3 linked regions of the Homo sapiens genome follow. The protein of the gene in region 3 purifies or fractionates together with the protein of the main gene of each other region. This does not show direct contact. Each region holds a gene or a part of one and is shown on either strand. Other genes may lie near its edges.

Evidence for each region. The genes of interacting proteins can lie anywhere in the genome.
Region 1: the proteins of MELK (region 3) and TESK2 purify together in Homo sapiens (affinity purification with mass spectrometry, with the first as the bait; one large-scale study listed by BioGRID). This does not show direct contact.
Region 2: the proteins of MELK (region 3) and KIF13B purify together in Homo sapiens (affinity purification with mass spectrometry, with the first as the bait; one large-scale study listed by BioGRID). This does not show direct contact.

Annotation. Positions count from the first base shown.
Region 1 is NC_000001.11:45,342,691-45,346,318, reverse strand, and holds the end of TESK2 (dual specificity testis-specific protein kinase 2), read left to right. Parts: intron 1-324; coding exon 325-442; intron 443-760; coding exon 761-1,479; 3' UTR 1,480-2,436; downstream 2,437-3,628. Other genes in the region: TOE1 (target of EGR1 protein 1), read right to left, coding at 2,617-3,237, 3,317-3,476. UniProt on the Homo sapiens protein: Dual specificity protein kinase activity catalyzing autophosphorylation and phosphorylation of exogenous substrates on both serine/threonine and tyrosine residues. Phosphorylates cofilin at 'Ser-3'. May play an important role in spermatogenesis.
Region 2 is NC_000008.11:29,143,879-29,148,615, forward strand, and holds part of KIF13B (kinesin-like protein KIF13B), read right to left. Parts: coding exon 4,699-4,737; intron 3,725-4,698; coding exon 3,514-3,724; intron 2,663-3,513; coding exon 2,500-2,662; intron 1-2,499. UniProt on the Homo sapiens protein: Involved in reorganization of the cortical cytoskeleton. Regulates axon formation by promoting the formation of extra axons. May be functionally important for the intracellular trafficking of MAGUKs and associated protein complexes.
Region 3 is NC_000009.12:36,673,301-36,678,825, reverse strand, and holds the end of MELK (maternal embryonic leucine zipper kinase), read right to left. Parts: intron 3,993-5,525; coding exon 3,889-3,992; intron 1,667-3,888; coding exon 1,489-1,666; 3' UTR 1,144-1,488; downstream 1-1,143. UniProt on the Homo sapiens protein: Serine/threonine-protein kinase involved in various processes such as cell cycle regulation, self-renewal of stem cells, apoptosis and splicing regulation. Has a broad substrate specificity; phosphorylates BCL2L14, CDC25B, MAP3K5/ASK1 and ZNF622.

The DNA.
Region 1 (3,628 bases), on a different chromosome or scaffold from region 3:
GGATCAAGGGGTAGGTGGGCTTTGTTCAGATACCTCCCAGAAACACATTAGGAGCAGAACTCAAGAACAGAATAAACTAATATGAGCATACTTTTGGAAGGTTCTGTGACAAGGTGATAAGACAAACACTAAGACAGGGAGGGTAGTAGACAGTAGTGTTTTCCCTGACCTGAACTGTAGGGATCACCTTCATTGTCTGGGGCCTTTAGAAAAGGTCTCTCAGCTGCACATCTGAATCTTCAAAGATGCCAGAAATAGACTCAAATGCCATCTTTGGGGTGGGAGATGGAGGGCAGAGCTCATGGCTGTTGTGGATACCTACAGATGGATCCCAAACTGCGCCCATCTTTTGTGGAGATTGGGAAGACCCTGGAGGAAATTCTGAGCCGCCTACAGGAAGAAGAGCAGGAGAGGGATAGGAAGCTGCAGCCCACAGCCAGGGGTAAGAGATTAGACCAGGGAGCCCAACCTAACCCTAAGGGAGGAAATTCGGATGTGGGGCCTTCTCCTCTTAGGGTTGTGATTGCCAGGATCCCAGGTCCAGAAACAAATGGGAGGGGAAGGAGATGATGCAGAAAGTACTGGCCTTTTTAAGAGCTGTGGCTTGGCATACTGCTTCCCCTCTCTGAGTCTGTTTCTTCATTGGTAAAACAGGGCCATGGTATCAGCTTTGCTTTCATGAGTGAAAACATTCTGTGGTAAAATGCTGCTTGTATTTGTTATGACTAGTGAGAGTAACCCAGACTTGATTATTCTTCAGGACTCTTGGAGAAAGCACCTGGGGTGAAGCGACTAAGCTCACTGGATGACAAGATCCCCCACAAGTCACCATGCCCAAGACGTACCATCTGGCTGTCTCGAAGCCAGTCAGATATCTTTTCCCGTAAGCCCCCACGTACAGTGAGTGTCTTGGACCCATACTACCGGCCACGAGATGGTGCTGCCCGCACCCCCAAAGTCAACCCTTTTAGTGCTCGCCAGGACCTCATGGGGGGCAAGATCAAGTTTTTTGACCTGCCCAGCAAGTCTGTCATCTCTCTGGTATTTGACCTGGATGCACCAGGGCCCGGAACTATGCCCCTGGCTGACTGGCAGGAGCCCCTGGCCCCACCTATTCGCCGGTGGCGTTCCTTGCCTGGTTCGCCTGAGTTCTTGCATCAAGAGGCTTGTCCATTTGTGGGCCGGGAAGAATCGCTATCTGATGGGCCCCCACCACGCCTAAGTAGTCTCAAGTACAGAGTTAAAGAGATCCCACCATTCCGGGCATCTGCCCTACCAGCTGCTCAAGCCCATGAGGCTATGGACTGCTCCATTCTCCAGGAAGAAAATGGTTTTGGGTCCAGGCCCCAGGGGACCAGTCCATGCCCTGCGGGTGCTTCTGAGGAGATGGAGGTAGAAGAAAGGCCAGCAGGCTCAACTCCAGCCACCTTCTCCACCTCAGGCATAGGCCTGCAAACCCAGGGAAAGCAGGATGGGTGAGGGGGTTTAGTCCCTGCCTCACCTTGGGGATGGACCTTCAGCTGAAACCATATGGCCCCCTAGGTGCACAGCCTTGATTCTTCCCTGGAGCCTACAGAGCAGGCAGGCTAGGCCAAGCCAGGCTCAACTTCTGGGCTCCCAGTGCCCATTGGCTGTGTATGACGGGAGGCAGCAGTGAGAGGCCTTCCTAGTTAGGGCCAACAGCTGATACCAAGCCTCTGAAATCCAGCAAGGAGGTCTGCCTCCCACCAGACCCTCTCCAGTGTACTTCCCCAGATAGGACCAGAGGATGTCTAGTTCTAGGCTGAGCTGGCAGGCAGCTATTACCCCGGTTCTTTCCCCACCCCAGGTCTGTCTCTTGCCTTTTCTTGGGGCATATAAGCTACTGAGTGGAACATGGAGCTGATCAAGAGGCCGTAATGGTCATGGCTGTTTCCCAGACCTGAATATTGGGGTGCTTCTTGCCAGTATTCTAAGACATTTGAGTAATTGCTGTTTGCACTTACTGCATGGTCAGACCACGTCACTACATTTCTATGCAAGGGGACAGCAAGGCAGCGTGGTGGTCATGGCTCTTAGCTAACCTATTCAAAGACCTTTTCCTGTTGATTAATCTATTTTCATATTTATAAAGGAGTCTTAATGTTCTGCCCCATAAGACTTTCAACCTTGTGGTTGGGAGTGGGGCTGGTTTTGTAGGCCCTAGGGCCTGCTTCTATGTATTTATCAACATGTGATACATTCAATTGGTTAAATGGTTTATACAGGGACTGATTTGCTTCCCTTCCTGCCATGGCTGGAGCTTTGGGAACAGTCTGTCCTTACAGAGCTGCAATAAGAAATAACCAAAGATGAAGCTGGTCAAATATTTTCATAACTTGCTTCTGTTGATTTTTTTTTTTGTAAAACTTTCCCAAGACATTTTCAGACTTAAAAATAAAGTCAGTGTTACAGGTGCTGGTCAGCCTTCTTACTTGTACCTCAAACACTGGGATAAAGGAGGCGGTCCAGGGCAATGCAGTGATGTCTGTCAAGACATTCCCCCTCCCCTAAACTCAGTAGCAGTTGAGGATGACATTTCAGGCTAGAGAGACCCAAAATACCTCTGTTCCACCTGAGAGCAAGGTGGAAGTTGCATCAGCTACTGCCCCAAGTGAGCTTCATCTTCTGATTGTGGGCTTTGGAGGAACGAGAGAACTGGCTCTTGGCCACTGTGAGGGGTACAGCTTTGCCACTCAAATATACCTTATTGTGGCATTCAGGGAGCCAGGGTCCAGAGCTGCAGGGCTGCGGTCCCTGGCTCACTTCCACATAGGCCATCACATAACCTGTCATAAAGGCATCAAAACCAGCCCGGTGCAATCCATCCCCAGGCACTGGGTTAGGACTGGCTTGGCTCCCTGGCACTTCTGAGGTAGCTCTATCAGCTATTTCAGGCCTTGCTGCCTTAATCCCCATCTCTAAGTCATTTTTGTTGCCTTGCTTGGAGTGAGGCAGGTTCCTAGTTTCATCGGCAGCCACCTCCTGCTCGGTTTCTTCAGGCTTGATGCTATCCCCACAGACCTGCTTCTTGGGAGGACCATCCTTAGCTTCCCCAGAGGTCTGTGTCCCCGGTAGGTTCAATAAAGCCCTCTTCCGTTTTTCCCTACGTCGTCGCCGTCGCCGCTTGTCCTCTGCCGCAGCCTCATCAGTGTCAATGATAAGGTCAATATCGTGAGACTGAGGACACTGTGGTCCCAGGGGGCACCAGCCATAAGCCTAGGGGTGGGAAAGAGGCTTAGAAAGAGGCTCCAGGCATCAGAACCTTCCCTCCCAAGAAACAGGTGGGTGCTCTCACCGAGAAGTTGTCACAGATGCTGGTGGGATGAGGACGGTGGGTTGCTGGGGGCAGGCAGCAGCGGTAATCAATATGGTCCCTCATGCTGGAAGGATAGTTGCAGAACTCCAGGGTAAGGTGTGGGCTGCCAGCTGCCCGCTGCTTCCCATTTTCCCGTTCACTGCAACAGCGCAAGAGGGTAATGGTCCACTAGCATATAAGCTCCATAAGAGCAGGGTTTTGTGGTCTGTTTTGTTCACTGCTGAATCCTCAGCACCTAAAACACTGCCTGGGCACATGGTAGGAGCTCAATAAATATCTTAAGTGAATGAA
Region 2 (4,737 bases), on a different chromosome or scaffold from region 3:
TGTTCTATTATGCAAGTATCACACCTCCCCCCCAAAAAAAGTATGCTCTGAAGTTTTTCCAGCTTATAAGAGCAATGTGGATTTTTTTCAGAGTAGAACTTGAGCAATGTGTTTTTAATGTAGAAAAAATTTTAGAACTTTTAAAAAACCACAAAGTTAAAAAAAAAAAAGCCCCTATACATTTCCCCGAGGGAGACATATCTACTGGTTATCTAATCAATTTAGGTTTACTGGCTTAATTTTTCAAATGTTCTACTTAAAACTGAAGAGAACTTTGAAATACATTGATGTTTCATTAACATCTTGCCTACAATCATTTTCTAAGAAAAAAATTTAAATAATAAAACAAACATTTGAGAATTCTTACGGTCAAAATGCGTGTGTGTGTTTTTTTTTAATTGAGACAGAGTCTCTTTCTGTCGCCCAGGCTGGGGTGCAGTGGCCCAATCTCGGCTCACTGCAACCTCCGCCTGGGTTCAAGTGATTCTCCTGCCTCAGCCCCCCAAGCAGCTGGGATTACAGGCGCCTGCCACCACGCCTGGCTGATTTTTGTATTTTTAATAGAGATGGGGTTTCATCATATTGGCCAGGCTGGTCTCGAACTCCTGACCTCAGGTGATCCGCCCACCTTGTCCTCCCAAAGTGCTGGGATTACAGGCATGAGCCACCATGCCCGGCCATCTTACAGTCAAAATTAAAGGCCCTCCTACCTTATATTCAGCCAGCCAGTGAATAAATACAAAAATCCCATTTGTGACCTGTGTGGGTAGTGGCTTTCCTGGGGGAGAATGCTGGACCTGGGACTATAATAGCAACGGGCAATATGGTGCAGCTACCATAACTTAGCCCTCTTGCAAAACTGGAAATAAGAAAAAAATTCACCAGAGAAGAGTTCACAGAATGGACAGGACTTTAAACAACTTTTCAAATACCAAAAAATAGTCTGTTGCACGAAAGACTACAGAGTCAGCCTAACTAAGGAGAGATGCCAGGCGACATGAGTTCTTCCAGGCGTTGACATGGCTGCCCCAGTGCAGAGCCACACCTTTCAACAAAGCCCAAAAGAGGTTACGGAGAAAAGGGCTGCGGTCATGCTTACTGGGGAAAAATCTTTCAGGTTTCTGCTTTTTTCAACTTATACACTATAAAATCAAAGAGGATCTTGTACTTCTCAGCCTTCAAGGAGAAACTAGGCCCTGAACCTTCTCCTTGTGACTGGCCTTCCTCTTCGGTTTTTGGTGAGTCCTACTGTACCCAGACTTTGCCCTACAAATACTAGTGTTCTAATTAAGTAAAAATTTTCAAAATACACACAGAGTATACAAAAACAATGATCTGTAAAGTAACGATCATATCATATTTACAATACCTTTCTCAAAATACTAAGAATCATATTTGCCAAATATCTAACCCTGTACAAAACGCTGACCTTGATGCTATGATGTCATAGGGAAAGATGTAATCCTTGCTATCAAATTAGAATAATATCCGCCTGTAATCCCAGCACTTTGGGAGGCCAAAGCAGGTGGATCACTTGAGGTCAGGAGTTTGAGACCAGCCTGGCCAACACAGCAAAACCCCATCTCTACTAAAAATACAAAAATTAGTCCAGCGTGGTGGCACACACCTGTAATCCCAGATACTGAGGAGGCTGAGGCAGGAGAATCGCTTGAACCCAGGAGGCAGATGCTGCAGTGACCCAGGATCACACCACTGCATTCCAGCCTGGGTGACAGAGTAAGACTCCCTCTCAAACAAAAAAAAGAAAAATAGAATATCCAAGATGGATTGATTAAAGTTTTGCTGTGTTGACTACCGCAGGCTAAACAGAACACACGGATCCACAAAAAATTCATCTGAATAGAAAATTCTACCTAATCCATCAAAAATTATGTATGAATGTGATCAAGAGCTAGAAAAGAACCTCAAAAAAAAAAAAAAAAGATGAAGGAAAAAAACCCAACTGAATGGCAAAGATAGAAGATTGTGATGGGACTTTCCCCCTACATTTTATTAAATTTATTATACCAAAAAAAGTATGATCCTGAATATATACATGACACCATGACACAACTAATGAGCAGTTTTACAGAGCAAGCTATTCCAAGTAGAAAATAACATAAGCAAAATGAACACCTAACTTGTGGAGAAGGGGTTGTAGAGTGGTAGCATAAGGAAGGAAAAAAAGACATTCGGGGAAGATTAATCAGAAAAGACTTCTAAGAAAGAATTTAAACAGATTTGAAGGAAGAAAGTTGAGTGAAATGAACTGTCAGGGCCAGGTGAGATGCAGAGTATATTCCCCTAGCAGATAAAATATACATACACTCAAAGGTAGAGAATGGAAAAGGAAGTCAATTCTACCCAAAAGCATGGAGGACAAAGGATCTGGACTTGGGGCAGGCACAGACAGGGATCTGAAGCTTAAATAACACCAGGAAATATCAGGCGATCTTATCCAATGAGATCTTTGTTTTTTTCAAGGAACGGCAACCTCACCTTCCTGTTGGCATCCAGGCTGGAGGCTGGAATCTGTAGGGTAACTTTGTATTCTGTTCTTTTATCCAGCTCCTCAGCAATGTAATTAGCTTCTCTCACCAATAGATTGGCCTTAACAATTTGTTCCCTCAGCCTCATCAGGCTGTTATTCAACGTTGCTTCTCTAAAAAAAAATAAAGAAGCGGCAGAGGTAGGGAAGAGATTAACACAAAGCAGCTAGTCAGAAAATCATACAGTGGTAGTACATCATTGCCAAAGTGTGAATTGAGCTTTTTCCGTGGTCGTCTGCACGCAGGGACTGTGTTGCTGACACTGACCCATGCACACGCTTGAACCTCAACTACACGATAAGCACTGGAAAGCAGCCACACAGCAAGCCGGCTGTAGATAACAGCAGTGCCCCTGTATGCAGATCACCAGGGGATCTTCATCAACTCAAGATTCTGTCTCAGCAGGTCTGAGGTGGAGGCCTGAAATCCTACATTTCTATCAATCTCCAGGTAAAAGGGAAGCTGCCTGCCTGCAGACCAAACTTTAAATAGTATGAGGTTAGTGAAGTACAGTCTGCAACCATGGGATAAGGCATTTCAATGCAATGCTAATTAGCCCATACAGAGATCAAATTTGCAATCTGCATCTCATCAGCACCATGCTTTACCTACCTGAGCTAATCAGTCCAGATAACCAACTTTGTTTTTCTAAAAATCATCTACCCAAGCTTCAGAACCTAAAGCATAATACAATGATCAAGTGTACTTCTATATCCAAATCCAAAAGCCATACCAACTGAAAATGGAGCAACACCTAACACCAACAGTTTTAAATAATGCAATATAAATGGGCAATTCCCCTTTTAAAAACAAATGCAAAGTGGTTCTTGGCTGTTAACACTTATCTTTTAACATAATTCTTTTGTAAGCACCATCTTAATGTTCCCATTTGACACTTTCCCTAGGTGTGTTAGAGGTGGCAAGCCTGAGCTATAAAGTTAACAGGCCCCTCTGTGCCGCCTACCTCTCCTCAGCCCACTGTCTTAAGCGTTGCTGAGCGCTGGGCGAGTGGAAAGAAAACCTGTCCATGCTCCGGCAGTTCTGCTTCTCAGGAGACAGCCTTCTCCGGAGCTGCTCCAATTCGTGCTCATACATAAGCCTCTGGCGCTCCAGTGCAGATCGTTTTTCTTCTTCATGCTGTTGTTCTAAGCTGTTTAATATGGACTGCATCGGATCTAAACACATTTTTAAAAAAGATACATGATCGAGAGTTACAACATAATAAACTTCAAATGTTGTTCTATATGGTAATGTTGTCTGTCATCTTAACTATACCACCTAATACTTTAAAGACAATTTGGCATAAACTTAGCTTTCCTGACTTTCAATCACTCATGTTGTTATATATTCTCAGACATATCCTCAACCATCTTCCCTGCAGAAAAAGCAGGTCTATTATATGTTCTACACATAACCTAAGACATGGCGAATCCTCCAGAAATACAATCATAAGCCAATGACAGGCAAGTTTCTAAAGCAGAGAAATTTGACCGGGCACAGTGGCTCACACCTGTAATCCCAGCATTTTGGGAGGCCGAGGTGGGCGGATCACCTGAGGTCAGGAGTTTGAGACCAGCCTGGCCGACATGGCGAAACCTTGTCTCTATTGAAAATACAAAAGTGAGCCAGGCATGGTGGTGTGCACGCCTGTCATCCCAGCTACTCAGGAGGCTGAGGCAGGAGAATCGAATCACTTGAACCCAGGAGGCAGAGGTTGCAGGGAGCCGAGATCGTGCCACTGCACCCTAGCCTGGGCGACAGAGCGAGACTCTCTCACAAAAAATTAAAATAAAATAAACAAGAGAGATTCTATCCATCAGATCAAAGTGATCTGACTGCATATTAAGGCAGAACATTTTGATAAATATAAATTAAAGCCAAAGACACAAAATACAGAGAATAGCAACATAAAGATTTTCCTTTTTGTTAACATTTGAAAGTCCCCAATCATAAACATTTTTAACACTCTACCGTTTTTTTTTTTTTAAAGAGAGAACGTCTTGCTATGTTGCCCAGGCTAAAGAGCAGTGGTTATTCACGGGCACAGTCTCAGCTCACTGCAGCCTGGAACTCCTGGGCTCAAGCGATCTCCCCACCTCAGCCTCTACCAACTGGAACTGATTCTCAAGTGCACGCCCGACTTGCTCACCATTGCTGCCCAGGGCCTTCATGGTGACCTCCATCTGTG
Region 3 (5,525 bases):
ATCCTCATCTACTGTCATTTCCCGCTTCCACTACCTTCTGCTTCTACCCCAAACACATAATGACATTTTATAATTCCCTGTCTTTGCACATATTGTTCTCTCAAAAATGTCATGTCCCAAGCTGGGGTGGTGGCTCATGCCTGTAATCCCAGCACTCTGGAGGGCTGAAGTGGGAGGACTGCTTGAGATCAAGAGTTTTGAGATCAGCCTGGGCAGCATAGTGAGACCCTGTCTGTACAAAAAGTAAAAAAATTTGCTGGGTGTGGTGGCGCACGCTTGTAGTACCAGCTACTTGGGAGGCTGAACCGGGAAGACTGCTTGAGCCCAGGAGGTCGAGGCTGCAGTGAGCTGAGATCACGCTACTGCACTCCAGCCTGGGTGACAGAGTGAGACTGCGTCTCAAAAAAAAAAGAAAGAAAGAAAGAAAAAAAGTCATACTCCTCACTCTTCTCTTTCTGCTGAACTCCTATATATCCTTCAATGACAAATGCTGTTTCTTCCAAGAATTCATTTCTAATTCCATGCAAAGTGGGTGGGTCCCGCTATGCTACAAATACAGTTAGTAAATCCTTGGGTTTACTAGACAGTAGCAGCTTCAGCCTGAGGACCTAATGCTTGTAAGCACTTAGTAAACATTTATTGAATAAATGAATGACAAAACATTCCCTTCACTACTGACCAGAAGGAGTGCTATTTTTTCTCCAACTAGTTTAATTGGTGAAATCCATACCAATATAACTTGAGTTCTAGCCTTTGGAGACCAATAAAATGAAATAAAAATACAAATTTGGGGCCAACATTGAGACTTAGGGAAATTACCATAAAGTAACATTTCAGGGGGGGTTCATAGTTCGGATACTTATCATTTGTTGACCAAACATACTTAAAGTCAATACTCTTTTATTCAACATATTAAATGTGTTGTTTAACTCTGGTAACCACAGCTGTGACAGTTAACGATCTCAATAAATCCTACTTAAATCAGACAGGAAAAAATTATGCAAATGAATTCTTATCTGTTTTTCTGCCCAAGGCATATTTGATAACAGATAAAACATACTCCAAATAGTCTCTACTTAATAGTCAGGAAGCCATTTGAGGTTTTATTTGGATCAAAATCAAATACAAAAAAGAGAAGCCTGCTATATTCACAAATGGTTTTATTTCAGAAAGAAATTACACATTACAAAGAGACATAGTTAAGAGCTTACATTCACATATGGAAGTGAATCTAAGAAAGTCAACAATTATTAATATACAAAACCACATGATTAAAAAAGACAGTAACATAATGACAGATGGGCTTGATTTAGATTCATACACAAAATAATATCTTTTGTTTAAAAACAAAGAGATATTGGTCTTAAGATAGCTCTTTAGAAACAAGTTGGTAGTTCCAATGAACTTTAAAATCAAAGCGATCATAACAGTCTTTATGTAGGCTGTATCACACCCACACTCATCCGGCAGGATGGAAGAATCCATCAATTATACCTTGCAGCTAGATAGGATGTCTTCCACTAATCTTTTGTAAACCCAGGCATCGCCCTTAAGCCGCTGCCTCCTGATACCCACCACATCGGGTTTTTGAAGCTGGCACACTTCTAATTCAAATTGCATTGTCACTTTCCCAAAATCTGACTGTGTTTGACACTTCAGTGTATAACTGTGAAAAACAAGATAAGAAGCTAGTTAGTAGGAGAACCATATTCTGTATAAGAGTTTTCTAAGCCTCTAGGAGGCCAGTGGAGGAAATGAACCATTATTTCATATTAAGCAATGTATTACTGTTTACAGTTTCCAAATGACCTAGCTATGCTTTAGTAATAGAGTATGACTGGTGTTTTCCCAGAAACTGAACTAGGATCCTAAGAATAAGCATGAAAAGGCTTTATTACAAGTCTCCCTTGCTCCAAAGAAAAGCCCCTGTTTCATAGCTATACATGCCATTCATGCTCAAGAAATCTGGCATTCTTTATGCAATCCTTTCAACGTGTAATCCGCAAACATTGGGCATTTCCACAACATTCACAACAAAGGAAAGCGCAAGAAAGATAATATTTCATGTGTGTGAGCCTTGTCAGAAACTTGTCTTTCATATAAATAAAGCTGAAGCCAGTAACCTGTCAGAAAGGCACGTGTGTTTTTGAGGTTTTTCTAATTAGTAATGAGAGATAACCTCTTATGACGATCATCACATCACTTTATGGCAGAAAGAAAAGCAGAAGAAAAAGCCCAAGGAAATGGTATATTCCCATAACTGAAACGTACGGCATTTATAGATAGAACTGCCGCATTATCTACTCTGAGAATGGAAAGGCCCAGTCAAAATGAAGCCTGAAACACATCTTAAGACATACGTATGATCCTGCAAAGCTGTATAAATTTAATTCATGTAATAATATTTAATTAGTTTACATTCTATTTTAGAGTTTTGTTTGTCTTACCAATCTTCAATAAATAGGACTGATTTTAAGTTTCAATTCCCTAAATACTTAAGGGTTCCTGATTAAGTGCTGTTCCACAGATGTGTGGAGAAGTTACATTGTTTCAGTTATGTACTTTTTTCTGTTTCATACTGTTATGTACCAAAATATTCTTTTTCTTACTAACTTAGTCATGTGTTTTGGGAAAGAGGCTTGATCTCTCAAAAATAAGCAGTCAACATCAAAAATGCCAAAAGGAGCACCCTGAAGTTAAGATTCTTGACAAGAAGATGAGGCATAGAACAATTTAGTCACATGTTAGATAATAGATCATTGAGAGACCTGTGACAGAGGTATGCCCAGAGGCTCATAGCCCCAAGCATGAAGAAGAGATCAGAGTGGGAGAGATGTGTTCTAATGAAGCCTGAGAGGAATGCCAGGGTTCACAGAAGGAATGCTTGCCAACATTTACAGATAACTAAAAACTAAAAATTATATCTGCACAAGATTGTTTCTTCAAATCTTACTCTATATTGACTATTCTATTTACATGTTTAAATCCATGCATGTCTCTTCTGGTTGCTTTAATAAAGAAATTTTAAAGGGAAATAATTGAATGGAAATGCTTAGAAATACGGCCATCTTGGGTGACCAGAAGAGGCCTGGCTATTGAGACCAGGAGATCATAACCAAGGAGGCTTTGATGGCAGTTCCTTCAACAGCGGGAGAGAGGTAAGGTGAAAAAACTTCCTAAAGCACTGAAAACCCAGCCCTGTAAAACAGCCAGTCATGAAGAGAAGGATTCTGTATAAATCCCTGATTCATTTGAAATGTCTCACAAATTTAGATTATAATTTATAAATATTATTGTAAAGCAGACAATCAAAGGAAAATAGAGGATCTACAAGAAAGCCAGAAGAATTTTGAATTTTCCTATTTTGAAATAAAGTGGGACAATATCTGTGCTTCTAAAACTTTTATAGCTTGAACCAAACAAAAGAGAATAAATTATAAGCAATAACACTACCTCAAAAGCTTTTGGGAATGAGGTGGGAGAAATACATTTTTTCTAAAGCACAGGGGTGAGGAGATCAACTTCTATTTTCTCTTTTTTTTGAGACAGAGTCTCGCTCTGTTACCTATGCTGGAGTGCAGTGGTGTGATCTCAGCTCATTGCAGCCTCCACCCAGGTTCAAGTGATTCTCATGCCTCAGCCTCCCACGTAGCTGGAACTACAGGCATGTGCCACCATGCCCAGCTAATTGTTTGTATTTTCAGTAGAGACAGGGCTTCTCCATGTTGGCCAGGCTGAACTTGAACTCTTGGCCTCAAGTGATCTGCCCACCTCAGCCTCCCAAAGTGCTGGGATTACAGGCGTGAGCCACCGCGCCCAACCAACTCCTATTTTCTCAAAGTCCAAAAGATACTAATAAATGCAACAGCTTGTAAATGTGCTTCTTACCCCTTTTGTACAAAGTCAACATGCTTCTTTGGAAGAATAGACATTATTTCATTCAACAGTTGATCTGGATTCACTAATCTAGTTGTAGTCACGTTATAGTGAAGCTAAGAAAAGAAAAAGAAGAGATGAGAAGTAAATTTTTACATCAACACAAAGACCATCACACCAGATCAAGAGTTCCAAAACTCCTCAATATAGTACTGTTTCAAATGGAACTATTTCCTAAAAAATATCAAAGGAATTTACAGTCAACTCTTAGTGAGTTAATGGCCCACTGGGAGAGCTTGGAGAAGTTATGGTTATTAGTAAACACACCCATAGCTTCCTTTTCATACTTTCATCTTCCTCTCCTACCAATCCTTTTAAAGAAATAAATATTAAAGAGCACCCATCTAACTGTTTGAGCTTTGCCTATTTTCCCCTTCCCACACTATTTTAAGAGACATTAACAGTCCTGAAATGTATACCACGGAAAGATAAACAAACACCATACAAAGTTTGCTTTGTACCTAGTTGGATATGTTTCCTTAACTCTTTCTGGATTATTTAAAGAATATTATAGAGTTCCAGGAGCTGATTTTATGACAGTTCTATGAGGAAATAAATGTAACAGGTATTCCTTTAAAAAAGTGATGTCATATTATTTTTTCTCATTGACTGAGAGCCTAATTCTCAGAGATAATTTCATTCCTAATTGATATTTATCCTTCATTCATTCAACAACTACTTTTGAATGTTTACTATGTGGTAGGCACTGTTTTAGTGGGTCCTGGACACACAAAAATCCCTCCCTTCCTGGTAAGTACCTTCACTGTCAAACAAAACCATAGTTTCTATATCTTTCAGGTTTGAGTTCATTGTATAAATAACAAAATGCCTAGGAAGAAAAGTATCCAACTATCTTACTTTTCAAAATAAGAACCTATGGCCCAAAGAAGAGATACAAATTTCTTAAGGTAGTGCTTCTCATAGTGTGATACAAGATAGACAAGGTAATTCTGGGTGGCACATGGATAAATATTTTTAAATATGTATTTGTTCCCAACTGATTTCGAAAACATAATTAACAACAACAACAAAAAAACCCTAATGATATAAAGGTTTCCTTTTAAATAAATTTGAGTTTTAAAAAATTATCTTGATTGTGGCAATGGTTTCACAGATGTTATATATAATGCCAAAGCATATTAATTGTACTTTAAAATATGCACAGTTGGCCGGGTGTAGTGGCTCATGACTGTAATCCCAGCACTTTGGGAAGCCAAGGCAGGAGGATTACTTGGGCTCAGGAGTTCAAGACCAGCCTGGGTAACATAGTGAGACCCTGTCTCTGCAAAAAAAATTAAGAATTAGCCAAGTGTGGTAGCACGCATCCCAGCTACTCAGGAAGCTGAGGCAGGAGGATGACTTGAGCCCAGAAGGTTGAGGCTGCAGTGAGCTATGATCATGCCATTGCACCACAGCCTGGGCAGCAGAGCAAGACTCTGCCTCAAAAAATTAACAACAAATAAAATAAAATAAAATATGTGCAAGTTTATTATATGTCAGTTATATCTCTATAAATCCATTTGTTAAAGGAGAGTCAACATAATGAAAATACCAGATAAATAATAGTGCACCCAATACACCCATAGAGC